Homo sapiens: one gene and its partner. The protein of the gene in region 1 purifies or fractionates together with the protein of each later gene. This does not show direct contact. Each region holds a gene or a part of one and is shown on either strand. Other genes may lie near its edges. The genes, in order: PPP1R1A and JMY.

The links.
Region 2: the proteins of PPP1R1A (region 1) and JMY purify together in Homo sapiens (affinity purification with mass spectrometry; 3 studies listed by BioGRID and IntAct, with this or other methods). This does not show direct contact.

What each region holds. Positions count from the first base shown.
Region 1 is NC_000012.12:54,585,055-54,592,602, forward strand, and holds the start of PPP1R1A (protein phosphatase 1 regulatory subunit 1A), read right to left. Parts: upstream 3,606-7,548; 5' UTR 3,435-3,605; coding exon 3,351-3,434; intron 1-3,350. UniProt on the Homo sapiens protein: Inhibitor of protein-phosphatase 1. This protein may be important in hormonal control of glycogen metabolism. Hormones that elevate intracellular cAMP increase I-1 activity in many tissues.
Region 2 is NC_000005.10:79,294,661-79,302,357, forward strand, and holds part of JMY (junction-mediating and -regulatory protein), read left to right. Parts: intron 1-5,492; coding exon 5,493-5,658; intron 5,659-6,015; coding exon 6,016-6,203; intron 6,204-7,697. UniProt on the Homo sapiens protein: Acts both as a nuclear p53/TP53-cofactor and a cytoplasmic regulator of actin dynamics depending on conditions. In nucleus, acts as a cofactor that increases p53/TP53 response via its interaction with p300/EP300.

The DNA of each region.
Region 1 (7,548 bases):
TGTGACAGCGCCTGGAGAGAGCATCCTTTTCAAGCGCCCCCCAGCCTGGGAGGACAGCACAGAGGAGGATCTGAACGTGCATCTCCTCTGGCCTGTGCCCCTCACTCCCTAATGTCCTCTCTGTCCTTGGATACATTGCCTTTCTGATTTGTCAAGAAATGGGGTTGGGGGAATCCTTGTCATGGTAGATATAATATCAATACAAGGAGGAGCCCTAGGCAGGACCCTGGTCAGGGCCCAAAGCGTAGCTGAAAAATCTTATCCTAGGCTCCAGGTCCTAGTCTAAGAAATTAACATATAAAGCTGACTGACTGCCCTGCCTCTGAGCCCCCTTTCCCCCCACTGTTGTTCTTTTGTCACGCTGCCAATAAAGTTGATTGTTGTTGAAGTCAGTTCAAGGACTCCTGGGAGGTGTAGTTTTCCCCCTTTCTCTGGAGGCTTTAGAGGCTTGGAAGCAAGTGGAAGGATGGGGGTTAGAGGATGACCCTCTAGGTTAGCAGTGGGGAGGGAAGGCAAATGGGGCTGGGAAAAGGGCTAGAATTATCCTGGGCTGAGAGGAGTAGGATGAGGACACTGAATGATCAAACCCTTATCTTTGCATGTCCATTATTTAGAATCATCACCACTGGCCGTGGGGGGATGACAGAGGTGAACACTGCCCCTCTCTATGCCCAGAAAAGTGGGGGGTACTGGCTATGGTAAGATGGGCTGTTTAAGCCTGAGGGGGGAACTCTTTCCAAAGAAGAAACAGGATGCAAAGAATGGGGGTATGTGGGGGTAGGGCATCATTTTCCCAGGAGAATTCAGTGGCATCTGTTTTTGGTGACATTGCAAGGTCCCCGCAGTACCAGTCCTTTGTGTATGTGTGTAAGTGTGCACATGGATGAGCCGCACAGACATTAACTGTGAGTCGTCTCTGGTCATTCCTGATACACATGGGCTGGGGACCATCTGCTTCATGTATATGGGGTGGGGGCCATCCTTCAACTAGAAGACTCCTCTACTTCTTTCCATCCTGGAGGGGCAGGGTGTGGTGGTGGTAGTAGGAAAGAGACAAGGAGGGTGGAGTGGCGATCAGTGGGTTGAGATAACATCAGAGTGGGGAGCCCAAGAAAGAGACTGCAAGTATGACAGAGGGCAGCAGGGCTGTCTGGTCTTGGACACATCACTTCCTTGACCTATTCCTTTGCTTTGGACAAGGTTTCTAAGCATTCAGAGTCCTTGGGAATCGTGATACCCTTACAGCAGGAAGGAGGAAAGTCAGACTTCCTGAGGTACCTCCCAGGCACCTGAACTAGTGGGAAATAAGTAGATGGTCTCTTTTCCTTTTCTCATACCTATCCCAAATCCTAGCTCTCAGGAGCATGTGATAACTTCGCCTCGGATTTCTTTCCAAAGCAGTCATGCCAAGGATCTGGAAGCTGTGGGCACCCCTCCACCGCCTGCCACTCTGTGCTCTATAACTCAGAGCTTCCAACTCCTTTTGCCCTCCCATGTTGGTCTGGGTTAGGAGCACCTGCCAAGCCTGGAGCTTTTTGCCTAACACAGCAGGAGGGGCTGAGGTTAGGCCACAGGAAGAATTTCAGGCCTAAGAGACACAAATTCTGAAGATTAGTGAAAGTAGGCCCAAGTCCCGGCTCTCTTTTTTCCCTCTGACTCCTCAGGATTGCCTTGTGCCCCTCCCTTGTCTCCTAGATCCCTGAACCAGCTGGCCTTCCTCCTCCTCCTCCCTACCCACCTACTACACCTGCCTCCTCCAACACCCAACAGATACAGGTGTCGGGCCCTGTCTGTGCCAGTGGGAGGCAGTTCTCCTTGGAACTGCATCCCCAACCTCCACAGTCCAGACTCTTGAGCCCTTTTTCCTGGGTCTGAGGTTATCCTGGCTGATGCCCTGCCTCCAGGCATAGCAGCCTTTCCCCTGACTCCCAGGGAACACAACCCATGCTGATGGCTCTCCATCCTCCTCATCCTCTACAGATTTGTGAGGCTTCACCAAGAGCCTTCCCGTAGTCACACCTTAGAGCTCTGAGGTGGTGGCTCACCCCAGGCCAGAGAGAGGACGGAGACGCAGGTACCTAACCCTATCTCCACATTGGGAAGCTGAAGTGGTAGGGAGAGTGTGTACCCCTGCCCGCTTCCCTTCACATCAGACCTTATTCTACCAAACAGCTGGAGCAACAAAAATGACAAAAAACACTCTCTCCACCTCATCCCAAGAGGTCACAAAGTTTTTTTCAGGTTGGGGGTGGCCAGCCAGAGCCTGGCAGCTTGTTGAGAGAAACAGAGAACTGACCTTGTGGGAAATTGATATTCTTTAGGAATGGGAATGTCTAGGCAAATGGACAGAGATTACAAAGAGATGGAGCAATAGGCAAATAAGCAAATATTTGGCAAACAAGGAGTAGTAAGGACCACGGGTGGCCACCCTCTCCACACATACGCTCACTCTCACCGAGGCATACACTTGCTCACACACTCTCATACACTGCCCCCTCTGCCAGGCTGCTCTGAGCTAAAAATAGACCAGGCTAGGAGGCTGGGCCAGGGCCCTGGACTCCCACCCCTTGAGCCAAGGCTGTCACAGTGCTTCTCCCTTGCATATTGTTCAGCTTGGACCCCAGCCCCTGGAAAGACTCCACCTCTGGCCTCCCAGTGCTGCTGGCTCAGTCCCACCTGGACTCCCCACTCCAAAGGGCAGGAGTTGGGAATAAGGGCCATGTGCGGAGACTTGAAGAAGGGAGCCTCAGCCTACAACTCGACCACCCCTCTCCCCTCTCCCTGGAGCCCCAGCCCTCTCAGTGGTCCTCAGTCCCTTCCTGTTATCACTTTCGGAGCCCAGCAAGGTGGCCCCCAGTTAGGAGGGGACAGGGAGAGCTGTTTCTCCTCTTCCAACTCCCACCCTTCCAGGCTCCCTCTCCATTACCGACCCCTCCCCAGGCCCCTCCCGCACTGCTGCTGATTCCCTTCAGCGCCACCACCAAGCTCAGAAACTCTAGTGGGGGTTGACTGGGTGGGGGATGCAGGGTTGTTTAAGGAGGGAGGGGTCGTGTCCTCAAGCAGGCCCCCTCCCCCAGGACTGGGGAGGAAGAGAGCGACTCTCGCGGGGCCAGGCATCGAGTGGAGGCGCTCTTCCTTCGGTCAGTCTCAAAGAAGCACAGATTCGAGATGTGGCTCCGACGGTGGGGGAGGGGACAGAAGACCCCCCCCCGCCCCCCGCAAACTGAGCGTTCGTCCTCAAAAGGGCGCACTGCTAAGGGAGGACTAGGCAGGGATCCTGGGTCCCACCAGTCCAGGGGTCCCTCGTCCTTGGCTGGGCGAGTGCCCTGCCGCCCCGCCCTGCTCCGCACCTGCTCCGCCGCCTCGGGGTCAAGGTGCGGCTCCAGCAGCGGGACCGTGAACTGGATCTTTCGGGGGCTGTTGTCTTGCTCCATGGCTGGGGCGGCGGCCGGTGGGCCCGCGCTGCGGCGGGAGGGAAGGCGGCGGGACTCGGGGCTGGGGCGGGCGCGCTCCCTCTCCGCTCCGCTCCGGCCCCGGCCCCAGCCCGGCGCGCTCGGCTCCCGGCTCCCGGCACAGCGCTCCCAGCTCGCGGCTCCGGGGACTCTGCCGCCGCCGATTGGCTCCGCACCCGCCCCTCCCGGCCCCCTCCCCCTCCCCCAGCCCGGAACCTTAACCCCGTCGTGGCTGCACCGGCGGCTGCGGGGGTCACCGCCCCGCGGGCCGCCGAGTCCGGGCGTGGCCCGGGAGCCGTCGTAGTGGACAGCTCAGGCAGATACCTCAGTGTCCTCGGAGTTTTGGGCAGGGCGTTGGGGTGGGGAGTGGCTAGGAAGAACTTCTCCTAGCCGGAGCAGGTTGTTGGGGCTAGGAAAGTAGAGGGGCGCTGCAGGAGAGGAGACTAAACGCGAGAGGAAGATTGCATTTATGATTTTAAAGGGGGTTGTATTATAGAGAAAAGATGGAAAGGGGATTTAGGCATGCAGCAGGAGGGATTAAGGTTAGACTTCGAGAGGGACTTTCCTTTGCAAGGAAAACACTAGGCGGAGGTAAAAACTTGGAGGGAAATACGAAGTCTGCACACCCGTCCTGTGTTCCCTCAGTGCCAGGGAGAGGAAACTGAAGACTTCAGAGGGTCTCCGGAGGGCGCGTTTCTCTCGAAGTGCCTGTGGGAGTGGGTGGAGGGCTTGGGGAGAGAGGACCATCTGGGACTCGACAAAAGGAATAACGATGGTGGGGAGCCAATCCTGCTTGTGAAATCGAGTTCTCTTTCTGCTTGCTAAATTAGGGGATGGTAAAGTAGGTGAAAGGCCTGCAAGGGGAAAATGCCTGGGGAGGGAGAGAGAAACTCCTTTGGTGGGGTGGCTTGTTTACAGATAGGGTTGGTTTCTAATTTCACTATTGGCAGGATACTGAAAACGAGCTGCTGTAACTGAAGGAATGGAGGTTAGACTATGGGAAGAACTGACTAGTTTGGTGGAAGACTAAGATGCCAGTCAATACGAGCCAGTGAGGGAGACAGGATATTCACAGGAGCTGGTGTGCTCGGTCTAAGGACTGGGGATCACTAGATGGGGGAGGGGATGTGCTGGGCACTGGGGAGGGGTAGGGCTGGATGCATCTTTTCGGGAGGAGAAGGTGGAGAGAAGAACTGGGGATGGGGAGGAGGGCACAGGGAGTCCTGGAAGAGGGGAAGGGGTCTGTCTCTTTAGCCTTAAACCAAGCAACTGGCAAGTGCCATACAGATTCATGCCTGGTTCTTGGAGAACCATATGGTCATCTTCTCCTCTAAGGTGTCAGCCTCAACTCTCAGTTGCCTCCTCTCCTGGGCAGCCCTTTCCAGACCTTGATTTCACAAGGCCCCTTCCCCTCTAACCTCACAAAATAACTTGTCCTGCCTTCCCCCCAGCCATATCTTTTTACACATGTCGGGCTCAGTTTTCTCAGGGTAAGGCTGGGGTTATGGGGACCCAGTGGGCCAGCTGGACCTCTGTCTGCAGGTTAACTGGCCCCTGTTTTGCTGTCACCTGGACTCCAGGATTGACTCCTGACACCCAGCCTGCACTTGCAGGGCCCCTTTGCTCTCTGGTGTGGCAGGGCCAGGTGGAAAACAGCTGGTTGGGCTTCCCCGTCTCCATTCCCAACCTTTGCGCAGATCCCCCCACAAGAAGTGACAGTGGAGAAAGAGATCGTGAAGGCCCTGAAGCAGAGAGGATAACGGTTGGGGGCTAGGGAGATACCTGGCTCATTAGGGCCCAGTTGCTTGCTCTGGCCTCCTTCCTACTCACCCCACCTCCTAACCACACATCCACAGAGCAGGATCCCAAATATCCTCTAAATAGGTGACTTGTCTATTCCCCATCCCATTCTACCAGGACCATGGGATGTGAAGCCAGGATTCCCACATCCCTATGTCTGGGGACTCAGGCTTCTCTCATGAGCCTCCATCTCATTTGTAAAACAGACAGAGGATCCCACCTCCTAGGGTTGAGTATCATCTTGGGTAGAGTACCTGGTGCATAGAAGGTCACGGTTAATTGTAGCTGCTGGTTTTATTGTTATTTCCTGGCAGGACGGCAGAGTTGAGGGGTGGTCACCTCTCAGAGTGGTTACCTCTCCACCCCCACCCCAGACATCCAGGCTGCCTAGTCCTCTTTCGTATTCCGTGCTCTCCCTCAAACTTTGGTCTGGTCATGGAAATTCCTCCCCAAGTCTCTCACCCACCCTATGTTGCCTTCTCAAGTCCCGGATTCTCAGAGTCCTTTGTCCTGAAAGCCACGGGTAAGGAGAGAGACCAAGAGAGCTTGAGCTCTGGAGAGATGGCTGATGAGGGGCTGCGTGGGAAGAGGGGTCCCGGCAGCAGCTGGTGCTGGGGTAGAGGCAGCGGAGGAGAGAGGAGGGAGAGGGAAGAGGGATGGCTCCCAGTACTGGCTTTGGGAGGAGGAGACTGGGGAAAGTGGGCGAAGCGTTTATGGTTAGCAGGGAGGTGGAGTGTGGCTGGGTGCAGCCTTTGGTGCCGGGTAAGCTGGAATGGGTCTGTCTGTGAAGGTGTGTGTTTATTGTCATTTTGACTTTTATTTATGTCCATAGCTATGTGAGTGCCTGTTGGGCCGGTGGGTGTATGAAGGTATGGGTTGCTCACACACAGGCCTGGGGCACTGCAAAGGGCCTGATGCCTGCTCTTGGAACCTTTCCTAGAGTGAGTAAGAGTTAGAGCCTGCCTCATCCCAACTCCTTCCCTCAGCTTGCATGTTTCTATGTTAGGCGCCTGTGTTCACAGCCCTGCTGCAGTCACAGCCTGGGCTGGAGGAGCAGCAGCTGTATGTGGTGCACTGCTGGCTCCATGAAATATTTAAAGTTACAGGGATGTGACTGGGTGATGCAGTCACTTAATGACTCTCACCCTCCCCTATTTTCGGCACTGGACTCTGGGTTAATGGGGCTGCTCTTTGTCGCTGTCAGCACTTTCTGTTTTTATCTATCCACCCTTCTCACCCCTACTAACCCTCACAACCACCCAGGAGGGAGGACAGGTATTAGGGTGTTTATTTTGCTTCTCGAGGGGAGGGTAGTGTAGAGAGGTGTTGCTAAGATGGGCCACCTGGGCCAGGATATGAAAGGTCAGGGTTCAATTCCTCCATCTGCTATCAACTCTCTGGGTGACTCTGGGGTTGCTCCCCCAACCCCCAACCGGACTCAGTTTCCTAATCTTCAAAATGAAGGGGACCGGGTGACTTTGCAGGTTTCTTCTGCTCTAATATTCTGTTATTCTGAGTTGAGGGTGCTCCTGTCACACAGCCAGCATGTCTCAGAAACAGGGTTAGAACCCAGGAGCCCCAGGACCTTATCTGTATCTTTGCCTTTCTCCCTGCCTGGGCAGTGTGGCAGAGGCACACTCCGGCTTGTTGACAACATGATGCACACACACTTTTTATACACACAGCTCTGAGGAGATAAGGGCAGAGACTGCTGTTATGCACCCAAAGGAGCAGCGACCCCATCCAAGTGGTCCCCCAGGAAGCCATATGCTCATGCCAACGTGCTGCAGTTTCTCAAACATTTCTGGAAACTCTTGGAATCATCTCAGAGCTTGAGGCATATGCTCTGAAAATCCCCATGGGGGGTGAATCATTGTCTTTTAGGGTGGCTTTGCTCCTTTGGAAATGACCAATAGCCTTTAGGAGCCAACCCTTGTGAAGACAGAGGGAGGCCAGGTGGGGAGTAAGCCTTCATCTGGAAAAGAGATGTAGGTGCCCGGCAGTGAGACTGTTTGTCCTGCGGGGTTTTGAGCCCATCTAGAAGACTTCCCTGCAAGAAGTTTCCAGAGCTTCTCGTGAGCCCCAGAAGCAGCATTGGAGGAGATGGGTGGCCTCCTAGGGGATGACTTGGAAGTCCAGCCTCCTCTGACTGTGCAAGTCCTGGTTTGCCTGTGAGAAAAGCCCAGAGTTGCAGTTCTGTCAGGCTTGAGTGCACACCCTCCCTGCAGCTGGCAGTCTTGGGAATGGGGCCAGAGCTGGTGATTCAAACAGAGGGGATGCTCATTTTCAAAGTGCT
Region 2 (7,697 bases), on another chromosome or scaffold:
AGCCTGGCCAAGATGACGAAATTCTGTCTCCACTAAAAATACCAAAAATTAGCCAGATGTGGTGGTGAGCACCTATAATCCCAGCTACTCGGGAGGCTGAAGCAGGAGAATAGCTTGAACTCAGGAGGCACAGGTTGCAGTGAGTCGAGATGATGCCACTGCACTCAAGCCTGTGCGACAAGAGTGAAACTCTGTCTCAAAAAAAAAAAAAAAGGTATATCAGTGTGCTTTCTTTCCCTGGCAGAGGATTTTAACAATTCCCCATCTATTTATAATTCCTTGATAATTTCTCTGAACATACATAATCTAATAGAATATGAATGCATACTAGTCTTGAAGATTAGCTACTTATTTTTGTCTTTCTCCTACAAGCATGTAGCTAAATTATGATTAACTAAGGTTATATTCCCCTCTTTCAGTTTTAATTCGTCAAGTATTTATTGAGCATTGATTATATACCATGGTGGATATGAGCTTAGGATTTGGACAGTGCTGTCCAGCAGAACGCCCTGTAATCATGGAAATGTTCTATGTTTACCCTCTCCAGTAGGGTAGTTTTCAGCCATATGTGGCTAATGAGCTTTTGAAATGAGGCTTATGCAACAGAGGAACAGCATTTTAAATTAAATTTAAATAACCACATGTGGCTTGTGGCTACCTTACTGAACAGAGCACCTCTATAGATCTCAGTTCTGCAAACTTAACTCTTTAGGAAAGCTTCAGTGAGTTCCTTAACCTGTCTTTGAAATGTAAATATTATATACCTTCTGGAATGTTATGATTTCATGAGTTAATGCATATAAAGCATTTGCTATAGCACTTGACATAGAGTAAGACCTGGATAAATATTAGTGATTATTACTATAATTGTATGTTATGTTTTGTGCCAGTATCCCAGAAGGGAATACAGAGAAGAAAAAGATACATAATTTCCATGCTTAAGATGTTTACTTGCCTCAACCAACATTTCAGGGTTCACAAAGCATGCTGTTGACTAGGTGATGTGACATTTTGTATGGGCCTTGCCAGAAACTTCCAATAGTAAGAAGCTGTGATGTGGTAGACACAGCCTGAGTCTGAGCTGAGGTGGGGTTTTTGAGGTCCTTGTCCAGGCAAGGAGATTGGTTTTTAGTTTTCATTTTATTTGTCAATAAGTAGATTATTCCATAGGTGCACACTATATATTTCAAAGAGTCTAAATACAAAAAGGTAGGTTCCACTCTAAAGGCCTTAGTTTATCTTAAATTCTGTTTTCACCATATGAATTCTGTTTTGGCAGCAGTTAAAGTTTAAAATGTTTTAGTCCCTGTCCTTAGTGCTTTATGTGTATTATCTTGTTAAATTCTCAAACATAACCTTTTATGCTATAAGCCCAAAACCATTATCTGAATTCCCTGAAGACAGATATATTTCAGAATCCCAGGGTTTTTTTAGATTTTAGAAAGGTAAGATAGAGCATATAACTTCAGACAAGTGTTATTAGTCCACTAATGAAACACATGGTCACATTAAATGGAATACCTAAGGATTAAAAATAGTTTATGAAAAGTTCAGATCACATTTTTCCACAAATGGATTGTGAGATTTGGTTTGACATTAAATTATGGGAATTTTCCATTTTCCAGGATTTCTGACATGTGGAATTCAGATAATTCTGTCAACTTGTGTTACCCATATTTGTGCAGTTGTTACTGGTGAAACCTGTATTTATACTCAGGCTTGTCTGTTACTAATTCTCATGTTCATTCTTTCTACATAATAGGGCTAGTTTTGGTTGAAAACTTGCCCTTAACATCATTCACCTTATGCTGTCCAAGGTTTTTATGACCCTTTAAAAAAAAGATATAGCCTTGCCCTGTCACCGATGCTGGAGTGCAGTGGCACGATCATAGCTCACCACAAGCTCAAACTCCTGGGACTCAGAGTCCCTACTGTCTCAGCCTCCTAAGTCACTAGGATTACAGGCACATGCCACTATGCCTAGCTATGACTTATTTTCGAACCCTCATTTCATTTCTTGTTGACTGCATATTTTCTGTAACTCAAACAGTGGTGGATGCTCAGTGAGTATTTTTTGAATGAATGATTCAGTCCACAGGTAGCTCTTTTAATAGTTCCTCTAATGTCATTGGAATTTTCTAGCACAGTAGGGTAAAAGGCAGAACAAGGGCATAATTCATTTGCATAGTTTGCAAAAAGTGCCATCTGGTTTCATGATAAAGTACAGTCAAAATAGGTATACATGAAAACTACTTTATCATTATTACACATGGTGAGAATGATTGTGGAGTCAGCAGGGTATGTTGTACTTACATGGATGTATGGACATGAATTGGTACTTCATCCCCTTACTAGATTTGCTGTAAAACAATAACAATAACACTTTGATATTTTTCCGTCTTTTTGGGCTGGTAATCCCTAATTTTTTCTAGTGGAAAGAGCACTCTTGTAGGAATCAGGAGAACTGAGTCTAGCTCAAACTTTGCTAGTCATTACCTGGATCACATTGGGAGGTTACAATTTGGTTTGGGGTACTGGTATCCTGATACTTGAAGTATGTTTAGGAGAGTAAAAGTTGAGCTAAGTTAAATTTTAAGATGGCCAATTTTTCCTTTGAGTATTTAAACTACTTTCAGGGCTTCTTTCTTCTTGCCCAGGGAAGCACTGCTCTCAGATATAAAAAAGACACCCCATTGTGGCACCCACCTTCCCTGCACTGCTCCATTATCTGGAATTAGTTCTCTTTTCACCCTGGATTCTGTTTCTCTTAGTTCTGTGGCTGTCAGCTGAGGACAGGAAAACTCAGTCTGGAAATTTCAGATGTTAAAACAGGGAGGAAATTTGGAGCAGGGTGCCCGCTCCATACCTCTTCATGCCTTATACTAAGGATTTTGCCTCCACATTGAAGATTAGATAGACCTCAGAGTATTATTTTGCCCTCACAGATTTCTCTGAGTCATAGCATCCTTTTCTCCTTTGCTGATCTCATAAAAGTCCTGTATGTTCTGGTTCTACAACCCTTTAGCTTTTCCCAAAGTCCACCACTGACCTATTGTTTGTCCTTTCAGAGGTTGGGATTTAACAGACTCCTTCACTGCTTGTCTGCCTCTGATGAGGTTTTGGTTATCTTTAGACCACAGCCCTTGGCAAATCCACGTCTGGACTCTTGGTCTAGATAGAACTCACCGAACCAAAAAATTGAGGGTGAGGTCACTGCTTGTAAGAGAATACCTACTTCCTTTCTCAGTTTGATTTTTGATATTGAGTGTGTGCTGGTAGCACTGCGCTTCTCAAGTGCTTTTAAAGTACCCTGGCTCTGGGCTGCAGTCAGAGTACTGTTCTCTTTGTGGTTGAGAAAGCTGACAGCGTAAAGGCATGTCACTGGGGGACTTTCAACTTTTTTCCTTAGCCAAGAGATTGGGCAGGAGAGAGAAACTTACAGAGTGCTAGGGGAAGAACTTAGCAGAGCATCATGAACGTAGCAGAAAATGGTCACTTAGTTGGGTAGAACCAGAGTAGTGAAAATGAACTCACAGCCTGGATCTGAACAATATCACTGGAAAGTAATCTTAGATTAAGGTTTTTAGACTGGTTTACACTAAGGTTTTAACTTAACGATTCCCCACTTGAGAATAAAGCCTTCTAACATTAGATATCTTACCTGTTTGTATGCTGTGGTAATAGAGAGTGTGGGTGCAGATACTGGAACAATGTATATCCTACAGCTGTGTTTGCAGAGCTGGGCAAGAGCCCCAAGAGAGTATGAAAAGGGATGTTTATCATCTAAAGTGGCGAGTCCACGAGTCTCAAGGTAGACATTATTCCTTGGTTCTTATTTTATGACTTAGGACAAAAACAACAGTTCATATTGTTCACATTCCCCTCCCTAGCTGCTATAATTAAACCCACTTTGGGGTTATATACGTTGTTTGTCACCCATAAAATATTTCCTAACACAGCGGGATCACTCACAGTCTTACACTTAGATAATCTATTAAGTATCCGTTTATAAAATATTCATAAAACAAAGTACCACTGTATTTAATTCACCTGGTTATTTTTAAATTTTTACAACTGCACGTTTAGACTGGAGCCTAACCATTGCTTTTCAGTTCAAAATTCTTGTGAAAGGGATTTGAAATTATATTTTAAGGAAAAATATTCTAATTATTGGGTAAGACTGTGTAGATATATAGACTGTAAAGCAAAAGCTGGAATTTTCTTTAAAACGTATTCTTTTTATGTGCTGACAGGTTTTACCAACCTCGCCAGACAAAAGGGATCATTTAGGAAAATAAGAATTCACTGTCTTTTTCCCTGTAGGTTGTCCCTGTACAGCCAGTCAAGTATTTCTTTGGTATTCTGGGACCCCAGTGATGTCTCACATGAGCTCGTAAACAATACTCTTAATAATTTTCCCTTTTGTTCCTCTCGTCTCCTCCTTTGAAGGTCACTCCTTGGGAAGCCACTTGAATCCAGGGCTCCTCACTATTGCTCCTTTGGCTCTGAGGGCACACTGATGCCCGTATCGGGGCTTTCCTGGAGCTGCTAAGCATGAACCTTTAAACTACCAAAGCAGTGGTGCTATGTTCTTGGAAGAATGCTTACTGTCTCACTCTAGAGAACTATGCTTGTCCTTCACATCTCACTGACTCTTGAAAAGCCATTCCTTTGGCTTCTTTTATCTGCCTTTTTCCGTACAGCCAAATAGAAAGCCATAGAAATAGTAGGGTTAGGAACCAGTTATCTAAAGTACACTTTCCCCTTGGTGGTTTCCTTCATTCCTGGCAAAAATTTTCCCACTCCAGCACCGAGAACTGACCAACCAAGCAAACCTCACAGAAGACCATCCTTCACTTTATGAGCCATGCCCAGAAATTTCTGGATCTCACTTTAAGTTCAGCCTAGGACGTTGATTACATTTACCTAAAGTGACACCTTACGGATTGCAAGGATTTCCATCTAAAGCAATTGTCTTCTGCTGTTCCAGTCACATATTCTCACCTCACTCTATAGTCAGCAGATCCCAGAACCTAGCCAGTCTGTGACCATGGAGCAAAGCAAAACCCCAGATATGTGGCATTAACCAGCTTTTACCATTCTTGTAAATATCTGAGAATAGCCCCGTCATTTTCATATATCTCTGTGAAAAGAACAACTACATAACTTAGCATCCACTTTTGAGAGGGAAAGCATTTATATCCAGATGATACATATATTATTACCATAAATATGCATAAGTATAACATAAACATTAAAACCTTATTTTTACCATGTTTGCCTACTTCCACCATATAATATGACTTGATTATTACTGTTTTATACATATATATATATATATTTTTAAAGTCTAGATTCCATGCCTACAAGTTTCTTTCTGAGAGGAATTACTTAATAGGTTTATGCTATCTGATTAGTATTAATTTTTAATACTAACTCAATTTTCTTGTCCCCACCAGCTAGAAATTTTTTAATTTGTATTTTCAATGCAGATGCAGAGTTTGCGGGGTGGTACAGAAGCGATAGCACGATTGGATCAGTTAGAAGCTGATTATTATGATCTGCAACTTCAGTTGTATGAAGTACAGTTTGAAATCTTGAAGTGTGAAGAGTTACTATTGACAGCGCAACTAGAAAGCATCAAAAGACTTATATCAGGTATGGCGTGCATTTAACCACATAAGTTCACCAAAGATTGAATACATGAGAAAATACTTATGGACTAGGTATGTTTCTTTTGTTAAGACATTTAAAAAATTGTTTTCTGTAGGGATAGAGTGTGGGGGGGTGATTTCTAGCATTTATTGAGCACTTACTGTTTGCCAGATACTGCTAAACACTTTGCATACATTCACTCTATGAGGTGTATTAAATAATAATCACCACTTACAAAGAAGCTTAAGAGATAATGGCTTTGCCTGAGGTTGCAGAGCCAGTAATGAGATTAGAACCTTGTTCTTTCCAAACCCTAGCCCATATTCTTTACCACTACTCTTTTTTGCTGTTCTGTAACAGAAAAAAGAGATGAAGTGGTATACTATGACACTTACGAAAGCATGGAGGCCATGCTGGAGAAGGAAGAGATGGCAGCATCTGCGTACTTACAGAGAGAAGAGCTGCAGAAACTTCAGCAGAAAGCACGCCAGCTGGAAGCAAGACGTGGACGGGTTTCTGCCAAGAAATCCTACCTCAGAAATAAAAAGGTATTTAAATATTGCTTTTGTTCATTATTTAGTCTTTTATCCGTATCTACTAATCTCATCTGTTTTGTCTTTAAAACTTGCTTATGTTTTAAAACTAAGTAAGCACTATCTCTTATCAGTGCTCAATGCGTTTATAGTGCTCTGAGAATTGCCCTCTTAAACACATTGGAACAGCCAATAGTGATGTTCTCTTTACCTCTAGAAACACTAATGGTGACTCTGCTAAAGGCCTTGACTACAGGATCCCTGATAATGTGATTCCTGGCTCCCTTTTTATTTAAGGAGGCCCAGCGATGTTTTTTACAAGCCCTGATTCTGACCTTAAAGAATTTTATAGATTGTTATTTCTTTATTTAACTTTGATTACATTTTAGAATGTTTGATTCTTGATATTTGGAATGACTCATTTTGTGGAAATGTGATTCTTCCTGTGTCTTAAAAAATGTTTTGCACTCTAGTCCAGATGTTAACTATCGTGGAGCTGTTTCTAGTCACTGTAAGTGTAGAGTTGGAATCTGGAACTAGCTCTCCAACCTAGACCAAACTGATGACTGTGTGGTACTGATTCGCTTTAAGCTCAAGTATTATAAAAGTATGTCATGTTCTCTGAGAACCCACCTTCCTGCTCTTCACCACATTCCAAGGCTACCACTTCCTCATTCCACAGAAAATCAATACCTTTGCTTTTTGAAATAGATAGCTCTTGCACATTAAAGAAACTCAGACAGGCATGTATCCACAGTAAGTCAAGAACCCAGGACCTTCTATCACGTTGTCCATCAACAGAACAGTTACCTTGCCATCCAGAGCCCTGGCTTTCACATAATTATGTGCCTTTGCTATTTCCCCGTGACAGTGGTAATTGAAACCCACTGCTGTGTCAGCCCTGGTTGTGAGCTTCATTTCACGTTCCAATCTGCACCAACCAGGTAAACATTGCAGGCTGGGCGCGGTGGCTCATGCCTGTAATCCCAGCACTTTGGGAGGCTGAGGTGGGTGGATCACCTGAGGTCAGGAGTTCGAGACCAGCCAACATGGTGAAACCCTGTCTCTACTAAAAATACAAAAAATTAGCCAGGCATGGTGGCACGCGCCTGTAATCCCAGCTACTCGGGAGGCTGAGGCAGGAGAATCGCTTGAACCCAGAAGGTGGAGGTTGCAGTGAGCCAAGATGGCACCATTGCACTCCAGCCTGGACAACAAGAGTGAAACTCCGTCTCAAAAAAAAAAAAAAAAAAACATTGCAGTGATTTCAGCAGGTCTTATAGAACAGTTTTAGGGGAGAATGAAAAGTAAATAAGATTTCAGAAGAGCACATTTTTGAGGAATATTAGGAGTATTTTATATATTACTTTTAGGTGTATAGTGCAGTACTTTTGAGACTCGGAATTTGCAAACCTGCAAGTTTTTGAAAATGCTATGCAATTCAGACTTAATTGAAAGTCTGATTTCATTTTAATTCACCAGTATGCTAGGCACATTGTTAGACTTAGG